7 linked regions of the Homo sapiens genome follow. The protein of the gene in region 3 interacts with the protein of the main gene of each other region in a pairwise test. Each region holds a gene or a part of one and is shown on either strand. Other genes may lie near its edges. The genes, in order: SYT2, KASH5, ITGAM, ELOVL4, ARL13B, KIR2DL3 and PIGP.

The links.
Region 1: the proteins of ITGAM (region 3) and SYT2 interact in binary tests that used the Homo sapiens proteins (3 or more experiments, as listed by UniProt).
Region 2: the proteins of ITGAM (region 3) and KASH5 interact in binary tests that used the Homo sapiens proteins (3 or more experiments, as listed by UniProt).
Region 4: the proteins of ITGAM (region 3) and ELOVL4 interact in binary tests that used the Homo sapiens proteins (3 or more experiments, as listed by UniProt).
Region 5: the proteins of ITGAM (region 3) and ARL13B interact in binary tests that used the Homo sapiens proteins (3 or more experiments, as listed by UniProt).
Region 6: the proteins of ITGAM (region 3) and KIR2DL3 interact in binary tests that used the Homo sapiens proteins (3 or more experiments, as listed by UniProt).
Region 7: the proteins of ITGAM (region 3) and PIGP interact in binary tests that used the Homo sapiens proteins (3 or more experiments, as listed by UniProt).

Annotation. Positions count from the first base shown.
Region 1 is NC_000001.11:202,605,955-202,609,454, reverse strand, and holds part of SYT2 (synaptotagmin-2), read left to right. Parts: intron 1-514; exon of another isoform or gene 515-3,500. UniProt on the Homo sapiens protein: Exhibits calcium-dependent phospholipid and inositol polyphosphate binding properties. May have a regulatory role in the membrane interactions during trafficking of synaptic vesicles at the active zone of the synapse.
Region 2 is NC_000019.10:49,394,749-49,398,248, reverse strand, and holds part of KASH5 (protein KASH5), read right to left. Parts: intron 3,144-3,500; coding exon 2,957-3,143; intron 2,481-2,956; coding exon 2,416-2,480; intron 599-2,415; coding exon 532-598; intron 268-531; coding exon 106-267; intron 1-105. UniProt on the Homo sapiens protein: As a component of the LINC (LInker of Nucleoskeleton and Cytoskeleton) complex, involved in the connection between the nuclear lamina and the cytoskeleton.
Region 3 is NC_000016.10:31,325,975-31,329,474, reverse strand, and holds part of ITGAM (integrin alpha-M isoform 2 precursor), read right to left. Parts: intron 2,620-3,500; coding exon 2,540-2,619; coding exon of another isoform or gene 2,497-2,539; exon of another isoform or gene 2,476-2,496; intron 1,329-2,475; coding exon 1,245-1,328; intron 248-1,244; coding exon 172-247; intron 1-171.
Region 4 is NC_000006.12:79,941,054-79,944,553, forward strand, and holds part of ELOVL4 (very long chain fatty acid elongase 4), read right to left. Parts: intron 1-3,500. UniProt on the Homo sapiens protein: Catalyzes the first and rate-limiting reaction of the four reactions that constitute the long-chain fatty acids elongation cycle.
Region 5 is NC_000003.12:93,986,655-93,990,154, reverse strand, and holds part of ARL13B (ADP-ribosylation factor-like protein 13B), read right to left. Parts: intron 2,210-3,500; exon of another isoform or gene 1,093-2,209; intron 1-1,092. UniProt on the Homo sapiens protein: Cilium-specific protein required to control the microtubule-based, ciliary axoneme structure. May act by maintaining the association between IFT subcomplexes A and B. Binds GTP but is not able to hydrolyze fit; the GTPase activity remains unclear.
Region 6 is NC_000019.10:54,737,043-54,741,312, reverse strand, and holds the start of KIR2DL3 (killer cell immunoglobulin-like receptor 2DL3 precursor), read right to left. Parts: upstream 2,801-4,270; 5' UTR 2,768-2,800; coding exon 2,734-2,767; intron 1,807-2,733; coding exon 1,771-1,806; intron 1-1,770. UniProt on the Homo sapiens protein: Receptor on natural killer (NK) cells for HLA-C alleles (HLA-Cw1, HLA-Cw3 and HLA-Cw7). Inhibits the activity of NK cells thus preventing cell lysis.
Region 7 is NC_000021.9:37,064,874-37,067,472, reverse strand, and holds the end of PIGP (phosphatidylinositol N-acetylglucosaminyltransferase subunit P), read left to right. Parts: intron 1-92; coding exon 93-211; intron 212-1,760; coding exon 1,761-1,891; 3' UTR 1,892-2,099; downstream 2,100-2,599. UniProt on the Homo sapiens protein: Part of the glycosylphosphatidylinositol-N-acetylglucosaminyltransferase (GPI-GnT) complex that catalyzes the transfer of N-acetylglucosamine from UDP-N-acetylglucosamine to phosphatidylinositol and participates in the first step of GPI biosynthesis.

The sequences.
Region 1 (3,500 bases), on a different chromosome or scaffold from region 3:
CAGGGGTCTAGAACTAGAAATACCATTTGATCCAGCAATCCCATTACTGGGTATATACCCAAAGGATTATAAGTCATGGATTATAAGTCAAGGATTATAAAGACACATGCACACGTATGTTCATTGCGGCACTATTCACAATAGCAAAGACTTGGAACCAACCCAAATGTCCAACAATGATAAGACTGGATTAAGAAAATGTGGCACACATACACCATGGAATACTATGCAGCCATAAAAAATGATGAGTTCATGTCCTTTGTAGGGACATGGATGAAGCTGGAAACCATCATTCTCAGCAAACTATCGCAAGGACAAAAAACCAAACACCGCATGTTCTCACTCATAGGTGGGAATTGAACAATGAGAACACATGGACACAGGAAGGGGAACATCACACTCTGGGGCCTGTTGTGGGGTGGGGGGAGGGTGGAGGGTTAGCATTAGGAGATATACCTAATGTTAAATGACGAGTTAATGGGTGCAGCACACCAACATGGCACATGTATACACATGTAACTAACCTGCACATTGTGCACATGTACCCTAAAATTTAAAGTATAATAAAAAAATAAGTGTTGTCTGGGATGTGGAAAACTTGGAACCCTCATACATTGCTGGTGGGAACATAAATTGGTGCTGGCACCTTAAAATGTCAAACATAGTTATGACCCAGCAATTCCATACCTATGTATATACCCAAGAGAAATGAAAACATATGTCCACGCAAAAACTTATGCATGGATGTTCATAGCAGCATTATTCATAATATCCCACAAGTGGGATATTATTAGCTATATTTAGTTATAAAATAGCCCAAAGTGGAAATAACCCAAATATTTATAAATTGATGAATGGATAAATATAAAATATGTTCTAGGCAAGGTGCGGTGGCTCATGCCTGTAATGCCAACATTTTGGAGGCTGAAGTGGGAGGATTGCTTGAGGCCAGGAGCTCGAGACCAGCCTGGGCAATATAGGGAGACCCCATATCTACAAAAAATTAAAAAATTAGCTTGGTGTGATGGCATGCACCTGTAATCCCAGCTACTCGGGAAGCTGAGGTGGGATGATCACTTGAGCCCTGGAGGTGGAGGCTGTAGTAAGTGGTTGCACCACTGCACTCCAGCTGGGTGACAGAGTGAGACCCTGTCTCAAAAAAAAAAAAAAATGTTTTCTATCTACACAATGGAATACTATGTGGCAATAAAAAGGGAATGAAATACTGATACATGCTACAACATAGATGAACCTTGAAAACATCATACTAAATGAAAGAAGCCAGTCACAAAGACCACATATTTTATAATTCCATTGATAGGAAATGTTTAGGATAGACAAATCTATAGAGTCAGAAAGTAGATTAGTGGTTGCTGGAGCTGGGAAGAGGATGGGAATGGAGAGTGACTGCTAATGGGACTGGGTTTCTTTTTGAGGTGGCAAAAATGTTCTAACTTAGGTTATGCTAATTGTTCCACTATTCTGTGAATACAATAAAATGCACTGAACTGTGTACTTTAAAGGGTGACATATGTGAATTACATCTCAATAAAGCTGTTTTTTAAAAAAAAAAGGTCACAGAGCCCTGAACAGTGTGGTAGAAGTGAGGGGAGATGGACATGGCGGAAGGCCCTGGACACACATCTTTATCCCTTTGTGTGGCTACTTGCAGTTCCCGCCAAACCGGACCCATCTCTTTGTCCCCAGAGGCGAAGTCCAGTGGACCTTGGTTTTTCACTTCAAGACCAGTTTTGGGGTCAAGGCTATTTCAACATGGCAGACAGTAAGAGTTAAATAAATGCTTGGTGAATGAACCTACATTGCATCAATGTACAGGCCACCAGAAGTACTTAAGGCTGGAGCAGTCTCCAGGGCTGGGGAGGGGATCTCAGCAGGTTTTTAAAGGAAGGGACAGAACTTAAGAGCTCCTAAAATGTTCCTTCAGAAGAACCCTGAGTCTAGAGGAGAGTTAACTCATACCTAACGTGCAGTGAGAAAAGTCTCACATTTTTTCTTTAAATTCTTGTGCTGTATGCATCCTACTCTATTATTTCCAGCTTGTTTTAATTTAAAAATACTGTAAATTGCCATTCAGTAAAACGGATGCCTCAGGGAGTTGTGCTGTTTATTCTTGCATCCTGGAATACCTGTGGGTGTATGCTGCTATGTTCCCTCAGAGGAGCCCAGTCAACAAATACCCAGAGTGCCCGCTGTGTGCTTGGCACAAGGGGTGCTGTTGCCAACACAGGATCTGCCCTCATGGGACTTTCAGTTGAGAAATAAGTGCATAGCCCTGAGGAGCAGAAAGAGCTTGGTGGAGAGGACAGAATTATGGGGGGCAGAGTTTGGAAGCTCGTAAGAACATTGCCTTAAATGAAGACCAACATTTATGCTCAGTGTTTTACTAGGAAAAAGTTGAAAACTGCCTAAATGTCTACCAGTGGAATGGCTAAAAAAATTATGGTGTTACCATATAGTAGGATATTATGTAGCTATTTAATAATAAAAAACAATAAAGGAAAAGGCTTATGATGAAATTTTATGTAAAAAATCTTGAAAAAAAACTATACATAGTATGGTCTCAACATGTAAAACATACTCAGAAAAAATACCAGCATAGAATGCCCCAAATGCTAGTTGACTTTGGAGGGTAGAATTATGGGGGGATTTCTCTCTCTCTCCCCAAATTTTCTACAGTAAGTCTGGGTTATGTTATTAATAAACATCACATCTTTGATGCGGGAAGGCTAATCTACAGCTGCATGTGGGGGCAGGGCTAGAGATGAACCTGGAGTAGGGGCCACAGAGTAGACCGGGGAGGAAGGGCTAGAGATGGAGATGTGGGTGCCGTCTTCCTACAGGAGAGGTCAAAACAAACCCTGAGTGGGCACTGAGGGAGCCCGTGAAGAAACCGCAGAGAGCTGAGGAGTCTCGCGGGGCAGGAGGAGGAATTGGAGTCAGGGATGAGGAGAGTCAAGTGTCATGGAGCTGGGCAGAGATTCTAGGCAGAGTAGTATCTAGAAATCCTTGGAAGTCAAGGAGAGAGGTTGAAAGAGGAGCCCTCAGTGTAAAACCTTGTCTCCTTCCTAGAGTGGTGAGGTTAGATTTCAATGAGATATAGGAGAGTGATTAGCTATACAGGCTCTGGAGTTGGGCAGACCAGTTCAAACCTCAGTTTCAGAACTTACAGCTAAGTGACCTTGGAAAAACTATCTAACCTCTCTGAACCTGTTTCCCCATCTGTTAAATGGAACCAATAAAAACCATTAGGTTATTTTTTGGATTAGATGAATAATGCATGGAAAGTGTTTTGCACAGTGCTTGGCACATATATGTACTATTTTTTTTAAGAGACAGAACCTTACTTAATCACCCATAGCTCATGTAACCTCAAACTCCTGGACTCAAGTGATCCTCTATCACTTCAGCCCCCACTATGCCTAACTAAAAAAAAAAAATTTCTAAAGATAGGGTCTTGCTATGCTGCTCAGGCTGACTGT
Region 2 (3,500 bases), on a different chromosome or scaffold from region 3:
GTCAAAGAGCAGGATGCAGACACGAGCATGGGAGATAGAGGCCGGCTGCTGCAGGGAGGACGGAGGCAGGGGCGCTGGGGAGGGTGGGTGTGGCATCCAGCCCACCTGTGAAGCTGCTTACGCAGAGCCAAGATCTCCTCCCCAAGGCGTGCTGACCCCTCCTCAGCTGTCTCCATGCTCCGCTGCAATTTGGCATTCTCCCCAACCAGACGTCGGTTGCTGAGCTCCAGGTCCTCCAGGCTGCTCAGCAGGTCAGCTGTGGCTTGTCTAGGGGCAAGGAAGGGGTTCAGGTCACTGTCCACAGCCCCTGACTCATTTCCCCGGGTCGAGGTAGGTGCTGGTGGTGGGGAGATGTGGCTCTTTTGGGGAAAGATAAACAGGAGAGAGACTCCTCTGCTCTCCCTGAACTTTCAGCAAAGCCCCGTCCCTCATTCATTTCCCTGAAGGATCCCAAGCCCTACCCGGGCCTCGGCAGGCTGGAGGGGACAGGGTGTGGGCAGGAGGGTCAGGGAGGGGTGTGAGGATAGGTACAGCTCGGGTCTGGGGTCTTCGCCTCCGAAGCTCTCCAGGTTGGCTGGCTCCTCAGCTTCTGGGCATCCTGGAGGGAGAGAGCCAAGAGAATGTTGGCTTCCCTGGAACCCTTAAACGTAAAGTGCCCCAGGGCTCTGAGGTTGGACTCCATCTGCCTCCACCCTCACCTGTGCTCTGGAGAATCTCATGGGCTTTTGGGGCTGCAGTTATACCCACTGTAAAGCCCTCTTGCTTGTCTTCTACCTTGAGCTCAGGCTGGATCTCCCAGATAACCCTAACTCCCCACATTCTTTACACCCAACACTGGGCAGCACTTCACCTTCCCCTTCCCAGATCCCCCACCGACCACTCAGCCACTGGGCGGACCTGGCTCCCTTGCTCCCTGTCACCCCCAGTCCAGCAGAGCCCAGACTTCTCCCTCCTGCCCCTGACTCTCTGCTCCACCCCTCCTCTCTGTCTCCATGCCCCGGCCCTTGCTTTCTCCTCTTGGATCCTCACCAGAGCCTCTTCTCTGGCCTTCTGGCCTCTAGTCCCTCCTCTGCTTGCAGCCCTCCCTGGGCCCCCAAGCCTGATGAAGGAGGTTGAAGAGAACTTCCTTCCCCACCGTTTTTTGTATGGCTAGAGAAATGGAACATGACCACCATTTTTTTTTTTTTTTTTTAAAAGACAGGATCCTGCTCTATTGCCCAGGCTGGAGTGCAGTGGTGCAATGCATGGCTCACTGCAGCTTTGACCTTTCAGGCTCAAGCGATCCTCCTGACTCAGTGTCCCGGCTAGGACCACAGGTACATGCCACCGCACTCAGCTAATTTTTTATTTTTAGTAGAGATGGTGTCTCACTATGTTGCCCAGGCTGGTCTCAAACTACTGGGCTCAAATGTTCTTTCCACTTTGGCCTTCTAAAATGCTGGGATTACAGGCTCACGCCTGTAATCATGACCACTTTTTTTATGGAGCACCTCCTATGTGTGAGGTCCTGGGGATACAATGGTGAGCAAACCAGCCAACTAAACCCAGGTGCCAGTGGCTAACTAGATAATCAGATTTCCTCTGCAGGTGGATGTTCCAATGGAAAGGCCTACAAGTCTAGGAGTGAGCATGGGGAGCAAGGAACTCTAGCCAGGGGCATACCAGGGCTTCCCCTTTGCCAGAGGAGTGGATGACGGCTTGGCGCAGTGGCTCACGCCTGTAATCCCAGCACTTTGGGAGGCCAAGGCAGTTGGATCACCTGAGGTCGGGAGTTCGAGACCAGCCTGACCAACATGGAGAAACCTCGTCTCTATGAAAAATACAAAATTAGCTGGGCGTGGTGGTGCATGCCTGTAATCCCAGCTATGCGGAAGGCTGAGGCAGAAGAACTGCTTGAACCCAGGAGGCGGGGGTGGCGGTGAGCTGAGATTGCGCCATTGCACAACAGCCTGGGCAACAGGAGTGAAACTCTTATCTCAAAAAAAAAAAAAAAAAAAAAAAAAAAGTCCAGCAGGGTGGGGAGCAAGGAGTGGAGGGGAACAGCCTGAGCAAGGACCTGTGCTGGGCAGAAGTGGGGCACATTCGAGGAAGGGCAGCAAGACCAGTGGGCCTGTGAATTCCTGGACTAGAGTGAGGAGAGGTGATGTTAATGATGGAGCAGAGGTAGGCGGGGCCTCGTAGGCCTCTCTAATAGGGCTGGTGTGAGGAGAACGAGTTGGAAACCACCCTCTGAAGAAAAGAAACCCAAAGCTCACGGAAGGAAGGGACGGAGGACCTAGAAAGCCACACTCACAGCTCTAGTCTACAGTAAAGGTCCCTGGTTCCTACCCTATCCCTTGCTCTGCCCTGGGTGGTAAGTCCCCACACTGTCTGACCCAGGGCCTGCCTGCTTCATTCTATATATAGCAATCTCACCAGATGGCAGTTGCCGGGAGGTCAGGGCTCCCTGGAAGGCGGTCTCCTCTTCCAGCTCTAATCCCCTGTATCAAAGGGATGAGGCTTAGCGCCCCACTGTAGCTGCCCCTCAGTCCTCACCAGCCACAGGCAGGGGGATTGCAGGTGGGAGGAGGGGACCGGGTCAGGTGAGAGCTGGCACCACAGGGTAGGAGGGTGAGGCCAGATGGCAAGTGCCCGTGGCCAGATGGAAAAGCAGGAGGGGCAAGGAGTGGGTTTGGTGAAGGGTTGGGGAGGGACCTCTGTCAGCCCCAAACTCCTCCCTTCTCCAGCCCCATTTTATTTCTGTCTCCCAGACCCCCTCTGCTTCCTCATCCAAATTATTTTGTCCTCAGACTCCCTATCTACCCCCTCTGAATCCCGTCTCTTCATTTTTCTCTCCACAGCCTCATTCCAAACACAGTAGGTCCTTGGGCCTAAAGGATGCTGGCTCCAGTAAGCAGGTATGAGGTTAGATCTTAGGAAGGACTTCCCAGAGGAGGATGAAGATGTGGGGACTCACCCATGTAGTTGACAGGCAGCAATCCAGTCACGCATGACAACCAGGAAAGTGTCCAAGTCCACAGTGGCCTTAGGGCCCTCCCCATTGGGGTCCAGGCTGTTGGCCAATGTTTGGAGGCGTGCATCCTGGGGGCCCTGGCCTGTCACAGCCTCCAGGTAGGCCAGCACCTGGGCCACAGCCACAGTGCCTGTGACAGAGCATGCAGTGAGGGGGTCTGGGGCAGGTGGGGAGTGATGGGTATGGACTGGCAGCAGCTTGGGACCAGGATGTCACTGGCTAGGCTGGTGGCACTCCTGCTCCATGGCCCAGTGGAGACACACTGGGCAAGCCCTTTCCCCTCCTCTGAGTCCACTTTTTCACCTGGAAATGGGGCCCAGTCATCCCCCCATCACAGGGTAAACCAAAGGGGATGGACATAGGGACAGCATCAGCCATGCCCCACGCCACCATGGTGGCTGCCTCCCTCCCCTATCCCACGACCCCAAAACTCTGCCCTCTTCCATCAACGTCCCCCAAGTTTTCCTCATTCTAAAAGGCCTTCACC
Region 3 (3,500 bases):
GTCACATACATACGTGCGTGTATGTGTGCATACTGAGTGATAGCAGCGTGGAACCAAGCCTGGCACACCACAGGTGCCTTGCGCACATTTCCCATCCCTGTTTCTGCATTTTCTACCATCGATTTTCCTCCCCAGCCTCCTTCTCAGGACCCAGACGTCCCAGCTGCCCACCTGATATTGATGCTGCATGACCCGACTGGTATTCTCTGAGGCCGTGAAGTTGAGATATTTAGTGGAGACCCCATGGCTGAAGGGAGAAAAAAGGGACAGGAGGTGACAAAACATGAGGGGTGCCCTGGGAGGGTGTCTCAGGCTAAGTGTGTAAGGAGCGAACAGGCACATGGGTAATGGGTATGAAGTCCTGGGGGGTGGAGATGGGGTGGGGTGCAGGGGGATGGGGGAACCAATGTGTGCTGGACACACAGTGCGTGCCCATTTGGGCCACTCACACACACGTGCACAAATGCACACCCATGAGCACATACACACATGCACACAGACCCTCAGACACACACACGCACAAATACACACCCATGCACACATACATGCACATAGATCCTCAGACACACACACATGCACGAATACACACTCATGCACACATACATGCACATAGACCCTCACACACATGCACAAATACACACCCATGCGCACACACATGCACATAGACCTTCACACACACACATGCACAAATACACACCCATGCGCACACGCATGCACATAGACCTTCAGACATACGCACAAATACACACCCAGGCACACAGATCCTCATACACACACATGCACAAATACACACCCATGCACACAATGCACATATATCCTCAGACACACACATATGCACACACACCCATGCCCAGACACACATGCACATAGATCCTCACACACACATGCACAAATACACACCCATGCACAAGGATCCTCACACACACGCACAAATACACACCCATGCACGCACACACACATAGATCACACTCACATCCACAAATACACGCCCATGCACACATACACACATGCAGATACATCCTCAGACACACACATGCACAAATACACGTCCATGCACACAAACATGCACATAGATCATCACACTCACACACCCATGCCCAAATACACACCCATGCACACATACATGCACAGAGATCCTCAGACTCTCACACACACACACATGCACAGACTCATGCACACAGATGCACAATCAGCCATGTCCAGCCCAGAAGTGGAGGCTCAGCTAAAGTCCTGGAAGCCAGCACCTGGTGACCACCATGTAGACAGCATATTTCACCGGCAGCTCCAGTTGGAATTCGGTTTTGTTGGTTCTGGGCATGTTGTTCTCACTGGAGGGAAAGAAAGAGCTCCAGCCGGCTCTTGAGAACTGACAGTTAGTCTTTGCTCCTCCCTCTCCCTCACTCCCTGCCTCCAATCAGCCACCAAGTTCTGTTATCTCTGCATCTGAAACCCCACTGTTCTCCAACCCCTGCCCCCGCCTAGCCCAGGCCCATCCCTCTCCAGCTGGATGTCTGCAACCACCTTCTTCTAACTGGTCCCCTGAATTCACACCTGCTCCCACCCCAATCGCCAGCCCTCCTGAAGAGTGATCGTTCTAACATGCAAATATGATTATGTCACTCCCAGAGGCGAAACTGCAAATCCCAAACAACACCCGTCAGTCATTTTGGGACATGGCCTGTATCTAACCACCACCAACTCCTTCAGCCCTGCATTTCATGCTGAGGCCACTCTTAAACACACCCTGATCTTCCCGTCCCTGGTATCTGCTTCCTGCCTTCTGTCTTCATGCCCGCCCTCAGTTCATGCCTTTGCTTTGTCTAAATATATTTTCTTTTTTTCCCTTTTATTTTTTATTATTATTATTATTATTATTATTTTGACACTGGGTCTCACTCTATTGCCCAGGCTGGAGTGCAGTGGCACCATCTCAGCTCACTGCAGCCTCAATCTTCCAGGCTCAAGCAATTCTTGTGCCTCAGCCTCCTGAGTAGCTGGGATTACAGGCATGCACCACCATGCCTGGCTAATTTTTGTATTTTTTTTTTTTTGTAGAAACAGGGTATTGATATGTTGTCCAGGCTGATTTTGAACTCCTGGGTTCGAGCAATTGTTTTGCCTCAGCCTCCCAAAGTGCTGGGATTACAGGCTTGAGCCAGCACGCCCAGCTCCTAAATATATTTTCTTTAGGAATCTTCTCTGAACACCAAACTCCCAAGAACACTGGCCGTCCCCCATCTAATCTTGCATCTCATACTGGATTTGAGATGGATGCAAGATTAATGGCTAGATTTCTTGTCTGTCTTTGCCACTAAATTATCATCTCCGAGAGGGCAGGAACCACTATCGTCTGATCCACCACCATCCCACCAGCACTCAGCACAAGGCCCAGCACGTGGTGGGTGGTCAGTGAGTGTTTGCTGAGTGAACAAATGAGTTGAAGGGAGAACCAGTGGGCAAAGGGCAAAGGCCCACCATGGGCCAGGGGCTGGGGCGTCAGACGGGCAACTGCCTGCAGAAGCCTGGTAGCAGAGAGCACCTGGTCACATTGGCCTTGAGGAGCAGTTTGTTTCCAAGGGAAGCCTTAGAGTCTACATCAAACGTGATATTAAAGGTGACCTGGAGTGAGAGAAAGGAGAGACAATGACAGAAATATGAGAGAAAAAATAACCCAAATGCCCGTCATCTGATTAATGGAGACATGAAATATGGCCCATCCATGCAACAGGATATTGTTCACCAAATAAAAAGCAATGAAGGCCAGGTGCGGTGGCTCACACCTGTAATCCCAGCACTTTGGGAGGCTGAGGCAGGTGGATCACCTGAGGTCAGGAGTTCGAGACCAGCCTGGCCAACATGGCAAAACCCTGTATCTACTAAAAATACAAAAATTAGCTGGGTGTGGTGGCGGGCGCATGTAACCCCAGCTACTTGGGAGAGTGAGGCACAAGAATTGCTTAAACCTGGGAGGCAGAGGTTGCAGTGAGCCAAGATTGCACCACTGCACTCCAGCCTGGGCAACGAAGTGAAACTCCATCTCAAAAATATATATAAAAAATTTAAAAACAATTTTTTTAAAGCAATGAGGTACTGACATATACTACGACATGAATGATCCTTGCTAAGTCCTTGCTTAATATTATGCTAGGGAAAGGATCACATACGGGATTATTTCATTTATATGAAATGTCCAGAATAGGCAAATCTATAGACAAAGTAGATTAGTGGTTGCATAGGGCTGGGGGATATGGGAGGACTGGGGCTGAGGGCCAACGGGAACAGAAGCTCTTTGTGAGGTAATGAAGATGTTCCAAAATGGATCATGATGACGGATGCAAGACCCTATGAATTCACTCAAAGCCACTGAACTGTATACTTTATTTTATTTTATTTCATTTTATTTATTTTCAAGACAGGGTCTCACTCTGTCGCCTAGGCTAGAGTGCAGTGGTGTGATCATAGCTCACTGCAGCCTCAACCTCCCAGGCCCAGACGATCCT
Region 4 (3,500 bases), on a different chromosome or scaffold from region 3:
AACAGTTTTGCTGGAAAAAAATTTTATTTACTATAAAGAATGAGGTTTCTGAATCCCTGATAAATGTATATTTATTTGAAATTGCTTTACCTATTCCAAGAATAAAGAAAGTGATATCTATATCTAGACTTTTAGAGTCAGGTAGGACCTTACAGATTACCTAATTTAACCCTCTTAATTTACAGAGAACAATGCTGAGAATTGGGAAGGCAAAGGAACTTGTCCAAACTCTCATAGCAAATCAGCAGCAGACCAGGACTAAAACCTAGGTCATCTAAATCCCAGTCCAGAATTCTTCCCATTCACTATACCACACTGCCCTCCTCACTTCCACACAAGGCAATGCTTCTGCACAGACAATGAAGAGAACAATCATATCTGATTTTATATGTCTTGGAATCTTCATTTTTTATCTGTTTTGTGCTTCTAAATGACTTAATGGCCTGATTTACTCATTAAATTTAGTGAACGGCAACTGAATTAATGACCAACTCATAAAAAATATCATTCTTTTAAAGAACTCTCTGGCCGGGCACAGTGGGTCGTGCCTGTAATCCCAGCACTTTGTGGGGCTGAGGTGGGCAGATCACATGACACCAGGAGTTTAAGAGCAGCCAGGGCAACATGGTGAAATCCCCACTCTATGAAAAACAAAAACAAAAACCTTCTGTAATTTAGTGTGGTCTAAAGCCTTATTCATGTTTAGCAACCACAATATATCATGATTCAAAATTATGCTAGATTAAGAGGGTCATCTCCTGATACATATCATATCAACAAATATATGTGATAATCTCTGATGTTGGAGAGAAAGATACAAAGGAGTGAAGTGGTAAATAATAACGAAAGTTTAAACAGTTTGACACTAGGGTCATAGAAGGAATGGCACAGGAAATACGTGAGTAATTACTAAAGACAATGAGCTCCTGTGAGACAACAACTTGCTCCAGGGTACCATAAACAAGAAAGGCTTTGCAAAGGAGGACTATTGTACTGGGTTCTGGTAAAAGGTATCTGGAGAGGTAAACAGGGAAAAGGTGGGTAAAGGCAAGGGGAATGGTGGGATGAGAAACATAAAGGTGGACATGTACACATTTTACTTAAGGGTCAGTGAGTTATCCCAGTTGGCTAGAGCTGCAGGTCTTTGGGCAGGGGAATACTGAAGGATCAAGCGAGAAAGTTAATGTGGACCTTGGCTTTAAAAGGCCATGTGTTTCCTCCCATCTCCTTTCTGAAATCCAAACCCACATGATTTTAAAATATATATTCTAATAGAAAATAAAACAATAGTACCTTCGTTTGTTAACAGGCAAAATGTCCTGATAATGAAGACGAAAAAAACATCTAAAGTGAAAAAAGATAGACTGTTACACTACTCATTTCGGTGTGCTAATATATGCCTAATTCAGAATAATAAGTGGCTTAACAAATGAAAATACTTACGTTAATAATGTTAAAGCATTTACAGGTGACATTATCCACAGGACTTGAGCAAAAAAATAAGAAAACAAATTGAATTTTTAAAGGATGACCAAGTGCTCTGTGGCTCTTAAGTTTACAAAAGTGCCATCTGATATAATTATCTGCATAATTCTTAAAACTTTGTCTTCCTAAGCCAAAGAATCTAAGTTAAAATAGTTAAAACTGTGTCCTGACACCCGTTTTAGAACCTGCATTGTTTACCCTCCTGGAATTCCATCTGCAATAGGATGTTTTACTTTATGCTATCATTGGGGAATGGATAAGAGCATTAGCTATTAAAGTCTAGCAGTCTACCACCAAAAATCAAACTGTGGTGAAGGAAAAGACAATAAAAACCAAACCAAAACAAAAAACCATAAAATGGCATGGACATCCCAGAGGCTTCAAGGAGCTTATGAGTAAAGGATAATTAGGACGTCACTGAAAACAGTGACCAAGGGAGATCCCATGTTAGGAGCTGGTGATGTTTCTTTCTTTCTTTTTTTTTTTTAATTAGCTGCCTACAACTTGGAATCAGAATGTCTTTTCTCAAAGAAACATTCAAAGAAAACTGCATTACCAGGCTTAGCCAAACAAATAAACCTATTTTAGATAATAACATAGATGAAAAACTAAACATTAACTGTGACGAATAATAAAATTAATGTAAGCATACTGTACAATACTTAAAATACATGCTCCTCTGGGACCTAGCAATCCCTAAGACAAACCTGCTTTTACTTCAGCTTATTTGAGCTGAGTTAAACATCCCCTCCCACTAGCCCCCAGCTTCATCAAACCTGGATGACTCACTGGCCTGACCCTTAAGCACCTTCCCAGTTTCCATGGTTTTCAGTCAAGCTGTTCCCCTTGCCTTTGACACCTTTTGCCCTAGTATGCCTCTCCAAATACTCTGACAGTACTCACATCAACTCCTCATTCAAGGGTAGAGGGAAGTAAACTGTGGTGAAACAGCTAAAATATTCTAAAAACAACTGTATATTCCTTTCACTTAGGAGAAGTAGAGATGAGAAGAGCAGGGAAGGACTTTTCTGATCTTCCCTAGGCCCCAGCTAGTCCTGAGTCTGACAGATCACACTGCCTCCAGACCATGATATCAAGGAAAGGGGAATGACAGTGACCCCCTAGACTTTGCAAGATGCATGAGGGCAGTGACCAAGTGTCCTCCTTTCCTTTCCAGAGCCTAGAACTGTGCCTGTACATGGCAAGTAAATACGGAAAGAAATGGTATCATAAGCCTGGCTTCCACATTTCGTCATCCTACAGCTCTCCTCCCTCTTCCTGTACCACTCATCCCTTCTTTCTGACCCCTCCAAAGTTAATTCAAGGACCCAGCAAGTTATGTTCTAACTGCAACTACCAAGTAGACAATTTTTTTCACCAAAATGCAGGGTACTATATCTGCGAAAAGAGGGCCAATGCCAATCATTACCACCCCCAACCAACAGACAGCACCCATACCCTGTGAACAACAGCTATTTAGAAACAAATGGTCAGAAGATACATGGCCTCACAGGAGACACCTGGCTTTACCGTAAGCATCCTACTAACTCTCTAGGGTGTTTATATGCTAAATGTCAGGTATGCAAAAAAGCTATTAAACATTTATTAAAAGCATGAATAAATGAATAATGTAGATAAGTTGGGTATTCATAGATTGGGGAATATTTAGATTCATCAGTTTAAAAAATGTATATACAACTTTTATTAGATGTATACGTTGAGCCTAGGACTCCAATCCTAATAATTTAAATGTACTCATGAAGTGAAAGAATAGAAGAAAAAAACTAACATGATGACATGGAATACCTACTCTAATACTAACAACTAGTATAAAGTCCTACACCAGCCTATACTTTAACATAAACCAACGCTAATTTCCTCGTTCAAAATGTCTACAAATACAGAGAAATAAAAATTATTTTTGTTGTTTTTCTAAAAGTATAGCTCTTTCAAACTTTCAATTCCAATGTACAAAGTGTTAATACTGTAGTAAAAGTAACATTTTTGTTGTTAAC
Region 5 (3,500 bases), on a different chromosome or scaffold from region 3:
CGCCCACCTGCAATCCCAGCTACTCAGAAGGCTGAGACAGGAGAATCACTTGAACCCAGGAGGTGGAGGTTGCCGTGAGCTGAGATCGTGCCATTGCACTCCAGCCTGGGCGACAGAGGGAGACTTCGTCTCAAACAAAACAAAACAAAACAAAACAAAAAAAAGAGATACTCAAACTGTATTATCAAATAATTAATGATGTAACCTTTCCAGAAGTTGAAAGTGAGCCGCTTACTCCTAATATTATAGTCATCCCTGGGTCTTTGATTACTAGAAAGGCTGAGATACAAAGGACTCTGTAGTATTATAAGATTTACAGTATGTTATACTAGTAATAAGTAACATAAGAGGTATTATGGGTACTCTGAAATGTAGCCACAAATTTGGTGTTAGAGACCTGAGTTCAAGTGCCAGATTTGCCATTTCTAAGCTATATGGCACATTACTTTTCAGAATTTCATGAATGAAATAGGATAATAACAATAGCTACTCTAAAGGGATATAATGAAAATTAAATAAGGTTTCAATGAGCTGGGATCATGCCACTGCAGTCTAGCCTGGGTTGACAGCATGAGGCTGTTTAAAAAAAAAAAAAAAAATTAACCATAGCATTTTTCTGCTTAAAATCCTTATAGAGAATCAAGTCTCAATTTGGCAGCCCCCACTTCTGCCACTCCCAGGAAGCCTGCCATGCCGAGGATTCCTTCCATGCCGAGTACTCCTTCAGCCCTTCACAACCATCCCCGGCTACTTTTTATACAGGCTCCTCTACCAGAACTTCTCTTTATCAGCTCTGTAGTGCCTGTATCAAATGTGTTGGGCACACAGTAGGCTTCTTTACTGAAAGAAACAACAAACATTTTCTGAACCCCATTTGCTGAGTAAATACTAAGTAAAATTAAAATACATAACTTTAGATTGAGAAAGTACTATAATGAAGCTAATTTATATAAATCTTCACATCAAAATAGTTCATATTAAAGAATGTAATTATATCCATATATATCAAATTGGCTGAAGTTTTCTGAAAAAGCTTACATGCTCATGGTTTCAAGGTACTAATTAACAGAAAGACTTTCAAAACTGAAATAGGGGTCTCAGCAGCTCGGGCAGCGGGAGGAGTGCCAGTAGCCAGGCAGCCCAGCTTCGCGAAGGCTCTCAGCTCCGTGGCCCACAGGTGCCCAGCAAGTGCCCCTCCTGCCGCCAAGATGCCCAAGAGGAAGGTCAGTTCAGCCGAAGGGGTGGCGAAGCAAGAGCCCAAGAGGAGATCTGCGCACTTGTCAGCTAAACCTGCTCCTGCAAAAGTGGAAATGAAGCCAAAGAGGCATCAGGAAAGGCTAAATCTTCAGATTAAAAAAAAAAAAAAAATGCAAACAAATGGGAAAAGGGGAGCATAGGGAAAACAGGCCAAAGTGGCTAACCAAGAAACTAAATAAGATTTACCTGCAGAAAACGAAGAAACTAAAACCGAGGAGACTCCAACCTTTGATGAAGCAGGAGAGAAAGAAGCCAAGTCTGATTAATATCATATACCATGTCTTATCAGTAGTCCCTGTCTCCCTTCTTGTACAATCCAGGGTATTTTTATCAACTGCTTTGTAAGTGCAAGTCTTTTAGTAGCTCTAGAAACATTTTAAGTAGCAGGAACTCCCACCTCATTCCATTGTTAAGTTTTTTCTGAGGTGAAATAATTCTCTGGTTGTTTATTTTTTGGTGAAACCAGAGAATAGTATGGGATATTGAATTACAGGAAGTTTTGACTGTCTTGGATGTCAGCTTAACATTCCACAGATGGGGGCTTAGTTTTTATATACTGTAATACAAAATATACTAAATGGCAATACAGAGTCAGAATCCTGCATTTAATGTCTTGAACATTTTAAATTACTTCTATTGCCATGTTTTTTTTTTTTTTTCACAGAATTGTTTCCTAAAGAAAACCACTCCTTGATCATGGCTCTCCCTGTCAGAACTGTGTACACTATAACATCTTTGGTCACAGAAGTCCTGATTTCCTAATAACTGTGTTAATGTGCTGTGAAAGATTGAAAATTTGGGTATATAGTGTACATGCTATTAAACTGTGAATTGGTAGAACGTGTACAGCTTATCAAACACTTGTAGATACTGGCTCTTGATAATCCTCTTAAGAAAAATTTGCCTCCAAATGTTAAGTTGGAATGTCACTATAATAACTATTTAAAAAAGAGGCCGGGTGCAGTGGTTCACACCTATAATCACAGCACTTTGGGTGGCCAAGGTGGGAGAATTACTTGAGCCCAGGAGATTGAGACATGCCTGGTCAACATGGTGAGACCTTGTCTCTACAAATTAAAAAAAAAAATTAGCCAGGCATCGTGGCATGCACCTCCCAGTTACTTGGGAGGCTGAAGTGGGAGGATCGGTTGAGCCCGGGCAGTCAAGGCTGCAGTGAGCCGTGATCACTCCTCTGCACTCCAGCCTAGGCAATAGAGAGAGACCGTTTCAGAAAAAGGAATTACAATAGAGGTTTTCTAGATTTTTGGTATGTATGTTAAGAATTGTGTACAATTTGAAATGTCTGTATACTTATTCTCAACACGACAAATAAAATCTCCATTACAAAAGAAAAAACTGAAATAATTCTTAGTAAAAACAAAAAAAAATCAAAGGTAGAGATTAAGGGATCCAAAGGTCTGTTTTACATCACTTTAGCTATCTGCCGAAACAAGTGAAGACTTCCATACTCCAGAAGCTAATAATTAATATTGTTCAAGTCAACACAATGTATATAATAGATCTCCTAAGTGAGAATATGAGAATATCTTATCTCAGAATTCCTTTTTATATAACGGATATACAAATTAATATATCAGAAATACTGGTCAGGCACAATGGCTTATGCCTGTAATCCCAGTACTTTGGGAGGCCAAGACAGGAGGACTGTTTGAGCCCAGGAGTTTGAGACCAACCTGGGCAATATGGTGAGATCCTGTCTCTATTTAAAAAAAAAAAAAATCAGAAATATAAGCATCATGGCATTAGGGAGGATTGAACTTAGAAAACATTTAAATTCTGAATCTTTCCTGAATGACATTATCACAATCATTTGAACACCTACAAGTCTAAACTTCCTCATCTTTTAACTAAGGAAGACAATACTTTCAATATGATAATTAGATAAAAGCTATTCCTTTTTTTTTAGAGACGGAGTCTCATTCTGTCACCCAGGCTGGAGTGTGCAGTGGCGAGATCTCCACTCACTGCAACCTCTGCCTCCTGGGTGCAAGCAATTCTCCTGCCTCAGCCTCCCAAGTAGCTGGGATTACAGGAGTCTGCCACCATGCCTGGCTAATTTTTTGTATTTTTAGTAGAGACAGGGTTTCACTATGTTGGCCAGGCTCATCTCGAACTCCTGACCTCAACTGATCCATCCACCACGGCCACCCAAAGTGCAGGGATTACAGGTGCGAGCCATCATGCCTGGCCCATAAAAGCTGTTTCTAACTTCAAAAATATTA
Region 6 (4,270 bases), on a different chromosome or scaffold from region 3:
GCTGGAGTGAAGTGGTGTGGTCTAGGCTCACTGCAACCTCTGTCTCCTGGGTTCAAGTGATTCTCCTGCCCTCAGCCTCCTGAGTCGCTAGGATTACATGCACCTGCCACCATGCCTGGCTTTCCTTGGGTTGTTTCTTAACTTGTCCTTGACCTGGGTTCCAGTGTTGGTTTCCTGTTGCTGCTGTAGAAAATTATCAGAAGCATGGCAGCAGGAGAGACCACACTGACACCTTCCAGTACTGGAGACAGAAATTGGACCCTATTTTTCCTGGGCTAAAATCAAGGCATCTGCAGGGCTTTGTTCCCTCTGGAGACTCTGGAGAATCAGTTCCTTGACTTTTCCAGCCTCTATAGGCCACCTGCATTCATGGATCTTGGCCTTCCTCCACCTTCAAAGCTGGTGAAGACTTCCACTGGACTGCTCTAATCCCCACTCCCCTCTTCCTCCTCCTTTCATGTGCACCCTTGTGATTACACTGAGCCCAGTGGGACAGTCCAGGCTGTCTCCCCATGAGCTCCATCTTCCCCTTCAGTCCCTTCCCCTATAACATAAATAGTCACAGACTCCAGGGATTAGAATGTAGTCATCACTGGGGACAATTATTCTTCCCACCACAGCACCCATTTCCCTGTATTCAATCCCCCTTTACCACAAATACAGTCAGGGCCTGCGTGATGGGACCCTCAAGGACATGCCCAACAGAAGCTCTGGGATTCAGGAGGTGGGACAAGGAGAATCCAAGACAGGAGCCCTCTGACCTATGACCACGATCACCAGGGGGTTGCTGGGTGCTGACCACCCACTGGGGGAGTGTGTGTGTGAACCCCGACATCTGTATGTCCCTGTGTGTGCGGGGGTCACAGGGCCCATGAAAAGGCTGTTCCAGAATATTCTGTTGTAGAGCTCAGGGACAGGCACCCCACCTTCCTTTTACAGACTGAAGTTGTTAAACCCAAGATAAGAGTGACACCGAAGAATGACATGTCCTAGAGGCACCACAAGGCTGGGCCAGGCAGACAGCAAGGGCTTGTCCTGACCACCTTGGGGAGAAGGAGGCGCCGCCTTAGAGAGGAGGATGTGGAACTGCCCTTCCCTCCCTGTGCTCAGAAGATTCTCCTCGCTTTCCACGTTTCTATGGCTACTATCACACCTTGGTGCCCAGGGCTGAAGGAAGGACCCATCCCGCAAAGACATGGTGTCTCCCTACAACAAAAGCCTCAGCTGAGAACTTTGAGCAAGTGCTGAGTAAAGAGACTCCTACTAGATTTTAATACTGTAAGATTACTCACATAAAACAACACAGGGTAGACATGAGGTGGAGGGCATGTCCTTTGTGAATGGATATCAGCGGATGCCTGAACGAAAATAAACAACTGAGCCCCCATCAGAGGATTTGGAATGTCAGGGCCATGGCTGTGGTTTCCCACCTCTTCTGGTAGAATGACAGCAGCCACACTGCAGCCCCTACCATCATGGAAACGCTGAAGTGTGTGAGTAACACCTTTGTCCTCAGAGGATCTGCTGTTCCTACCACTTCCCAACCACACACCCCAGCTTTGAGCACCCCAGTCTAACCCTGGTCCCCACAGAACTTGACTCTGCCAAGGGGTTGAGAGGCCAGGGAGGCGAGGTCAGAAATGTGGGCTGAGCACCCCAGGGTCCTCTCTTCCTAGTTTATGAGAGACTCCCCGACAGGACTTCCCTCCTGTTTCAGGAAAATCCTCTTATGTGGGGAGATGACACCCGAAGGTTTGGAGAAGGACTCACCCTCATGTGGCCAGGCCCCCTGCAGCAAGAAGAACCCTGGAAAGAAAGATCATGATGGACCATCCATCTGCAGGCAAACCAGGCCTCCCTTGCTGCCCCCACTGGGCTGTGAGTCTTGGCAGCCAGGCCCTTCCTGGGCTGAAGTTAAACTCACCCTCAGTGCCTACCTGCACCCAAGAACAGGGCTGTCGGCTGTGCAGAGACCCAGTTTCCAGGCCCATATCCCCACCCCAAGCCCATATCTCCACTCCAGGCTGATATTTCCACCCTAGGCCCATATCGCCAATCCAGGCTCAGATCTCCACCCTAGGCCCCTATCTCCAATCCAGTCCCATATCTCCGCCCCAGGCCCAGATCTCCACCCTAAGCCCATATCTCCACTCCAGGCCCATATCACCTCTCCAGTCCCATATCTCCACACCCAGGCCCATATCTCCTTCCTAGGCCCATATCTCCACTCCAGGCCCAGATATCCACCTCTAGGCCCATAACTCCACTCCTGGCCCATATCTCCACTCCAGGCCCATATCTCTACTGCAGGCCCGTATCTCCACCTCCAGACCCATATCTCCACTCCAGGCCCATATCTCCACCTCCAGGCCCATATCTCCACCTCCAGGCCCATATCTCCACTCCAGGCCCATATCTCCACTCCAGGCCCATATCTCCACTCCAGGCCCCTATCTCTACTGCAGGCCCATATCTCCATCTCCAGGCCCATATCTCCATCTCCAGGCCCATGTCTCCACTACAAGCCCATATCTCTACTGCAGGCCCATATCTCAACCTCCAGGCCCATATCTCCACTCCAGGCCCAGATCTCCACTCCAGGCCCAGATCTCCACTTCTAGGCCCATCACTCCATCTCTAGGCCCATAACTCCACTTCCAGGCCTATATCTCCAACTCTGGGCCCCGATCTCCATCCCCGCACTCCCTCCCTCGATGCCCTTCCAGGACTCACCAACACACACCATGCTGACGACCATGAGCGACATGGTGCTGTCTGTGCAGACAGGCGGCCGCGCCCCAGCTCAGCTCAGCAGCGCACAGGATGTTATTTGGCGCCCTGCCCATGCAGTTTACATGTTGACCACATCATGGGAGGGTGACGTACGCAGGCTCTTTCTACCTTGCATGAGGCCCAGTGGGTGCTCGCTCAAGAGCGGAACATGGCTTCCTGGAAATTGTTCTCACTAGAATTGACACCTTGCGTCCTTCACTACGACCAGACTCAAAAGACGTCTCAGATCCAACCTCTCATACACGAGATGATTGAATTCTGTGCTTACATTAAAGATTTTTGATGTATTTTTGTTTTTATCTGAGATTCAAACTCTTCTTCATATGTAATGTGCAAAATGTCTAACAGGTATTATTAACATTATCAGAGTAATTGTGACAAGAAGCCATTCTAATTTTCCTGCTTGAGTTTCTACTACTAAACCAGAGGCATCAGAATAGCTTGAACCTGGGAGACGGAGGTTGCAGTGAGCTGAGCTCAAGCCACTGAACTCCAGCTTGGGTGACAGAGGAAGAGTCTGTCTCAAGAAAAAAAAAAAAAGCAAACTAAATAACCTATAATAACAAATCAGAGGACTCAGGTTACCAAATTTTAAGGGGTTCTATAAGTTTATATAAAATGCAGCATCCTCATGAGAGGGGATACAGAGAACCACTGGACAGAAAACTGTGTCTAAAATACATCTGTGGATACACAGTCCCTTTATAGTTGACAAAGGCTGCCATGTAGTTTAAGGTGGAATAGAATATTTTCTCAACAAATAACACAGGACCATAGGGTTACACGTAGGAAAAAATAAATCTAAACTTATCCTCACACTATAAAAACACTTCTTATTTTTTATCTTGTTGTTGTAAATTTTTTATGCTTTATTTTTAAGATTGACAAATAAAAATTATATACCATGGTCCTTCACTATACCTGGGTGATTGGTTCCAGGATCCCCATTCAGATACCAAAATCTGCAGATGCTCAAGCCCCTTGCATGAAATGGCATAGTGAAGCTGGGCACCGTGGCTCACGCCTGTAATCCCAGCACTTTGGGAGGCTGAGCTGGGTAGATCACAAGGTCAGGAGTTCAAGACCAGCTGGTCCAACATTCTGAAACCCCATCTCTACTAAAAATATACACACAAAAAAATTTATCTGTGCATGGTGGCACGTGCCTGTAATCCTAGGGGAGGCTACTGGGGAGGCTGAGGGAAGAGAATCGCTTGAACCTGGAAGGCGGAGGTTGCAGTGAGTTGAGATCACGCCACTGCACTCCAGCCTGGGTGAGAGAGTGAGACTGTCTCAAAAAAAAAAAAAAAATAGCATAGCAATTGCATAGAACCCATGCACATCCTCCTGTATACATGAAATCATCTCTTGATTACTTATAATTCCTGACACAGCCTACACGCCACTCAATTTGTGTCGATTCAACATAGTTTTTTGCTTTTTGAAACTTCGGGGATTTTTTTTCTCAAAATATTTT
Region 7 (2,599 bases), on a different chromosome or scaffold from region 3:
AATTTAAAAAACATGTTGGCTTTGTGACCGACTCTTGAGAATTACAACTTTTTTAAAGTGTCTATTATGTACTTTAATATTCTCTTTGGCAGATATTGGGCAGTTGCATTACCTGTCTACCTCCTTATTGCTATAGTAATTGGCTACGTGCTCTTGTTTGGGATTAACATGATGAGTACCTCTCCACTCGACTCCATCCATACAATCACAGGTAACTTTATATAAAAGGAAAGTGCTGGGGCAATGAAAGAGTGGAGTATTAGCACTTTTACCCAGAAAAGCAACAAAGAACAGGCTGCAAAACCCATGTTGGTGGTGCGCGTCTGTAATCCCAGCTACTTGGGAGGCTGAGGCAGGAGAATCACTTGAACCCAGGAGGCAGAGGTTGCAGTGAGCCAAGATCCCACCACTGTACTCCAGCTTGGGTGACAAGAGTGAAACTCCATCCTAAAAGAAAACACACACACACACACACACACACACACACACACACACACACACGGACAGTAAAAAGAAGCTACTAAGAGAAATAAATACAAACTTATATAAAAGGAAATATTTGCATGAAGGAATTAAGTTCTGATGAATACACACTAGCTATATTCATGGAGGAAATAAATTATAATTAATTATAGCACTGGTTAGCAGGTGTATGTTCCCATAAAAACCACAAGTATATGCTATATGTGTCTATAATATGTTCCCATTAACTTTGCCTGAGAGAAGCTTATCCTGAACAGACACCGTTGATCAAGGGATAGTAAATAGTACATGCAGACCTTGTTCAGAAAAAGGACTTTGGGGGTGTGTATCCTCCTCAGGATCATTGTGTACTCCTTATTCCAATTAAGTGGATAAAAGAGCCACAACACGTTCGTCTGGTTTTATTTTTTTAAAGTTCTTTCAAGTCTAAAGATGAAAATAAATCAGACTCCTGAGCTTGCTTAAATTCTAGAAAGTAAAGTATTTTTTAAGTTCCCTGGTATGATTTTTCAACTTTTCAAAACCTTTATATATTAGCCTCTACAATGTATTTTGAAAATCAATTCTATTATTTTTAAGTGTCTTTCTAATACACTGCATTCCATGCATTCTTGATTGGAATTGGCAGCAAATAGGTAATTTGTGCAAAGAGGGGAAATTGTTAAGATTGCATGAATATTTATACCAAATGATTTAATAGTTTTGCCATGTTGATTTAAATACATTTTCAAGGCCTGGATATAATTCTGTTCCCGTGAGAAATGTGCAAATGAGACTTTAATCATCATTGTATGGTTGATTAAAATATTGATTTCTTTCCAAGTTAGAGATGAAAAAAGTACTTTACTGATGTTTTTATTTTTTTATTTTTATTTATTTATTTATTTATTTTTTATTTTTTATTTTTGAGATGGAGTCTCGCTCTGTCACCCAGGCTGGAGTGCAATGGCGCAATCTCGGCTCACTGCAGGCTCCGCCCCCTGGGTTCACGCTGTTCTCCTGCCTCAGCCTCCCGAGTAGGTGGGACTACAGGCGCCCGCCACCTCACCAGGCTAATTTTGTGTGTTTGTGTTTTTAGTAGAGACAGGGATGTTTTTATTTTAATTGGGACATTTCTTCTAAAGAGAGGATTTAAGTAATCATCTAATTATGTTAAACATGATGTTTGTCACTATCCAAACGTCAGCCTAGTAAACTATGTGGTGGGTCTCCATCAGACACAGAGACTGTAGAAGAAATTGCTTAGGTAAACAGAGCTTTTTGGTCTTTTCTTACAGATAACTATGCAAAAAATCAACAGCAGAAGAAATACCAAGAGGAGGCCATTCCAGCCTTAAGAGATATTTCTATTAGTGAAGTAAACCAAATGTTCTTTCTTGCAGCCAAAGAACTTTACACCAAAAACTGAACTGTGTGTAACCATAGTAACACCAAGCACGTATTTATTTATAAGTTTTTGCCATTATAATTTTGACCATAAATTAATTTGACCATCTCTCTTATTAATAGAGAAGTAAAAAATGTAAGTTGACCTTCTCTTAGATTATGTTCAATGAATATTGTAAATGTTCAAGTATTGTTAATGAATAGAATAAATACAATATTGCATTCCCATATAGCAGACTTAAAAAAAAAAATCAATGTCAGTATAATCAAGAAGTTCCTCCAGAGAGGCATTTATATTGTAATTTGCAAAGGGCAATGATGTCCTTCCTCCTGTTTGTCCTGAGGGGCCCAGAATTCAAACCCTTAGTTTTTGGGAAGGGTACAGTTAGTACTTGTGCCATCAGATTCATGTCTAAGACACAAATATTTGTTGAGTACTCACTGTGTACCAGGTATTTTTCTAGGCACTGAGGATGAAGTAATGGTAAGATTCTCTCTCAAAGAGCTTATAGTTTTAGAAGCAGGGTGAGGCAACTAAGCAAATAAACAAGGAAATATAATTTGATGAGTGCTATGCAAAGAATTAAGATAATGTATTCTAGAATGCAAAGGGATGACTAGTTCACATTGGGTGGTCAAGGAAGGCCTCTCAGAGAGAGGCTGTTGGGATCTAAGTATAAAGCAGGTGAGGCAAAGACCATAAGGTGGGAAGGAACTTGGTTTGTCCTAA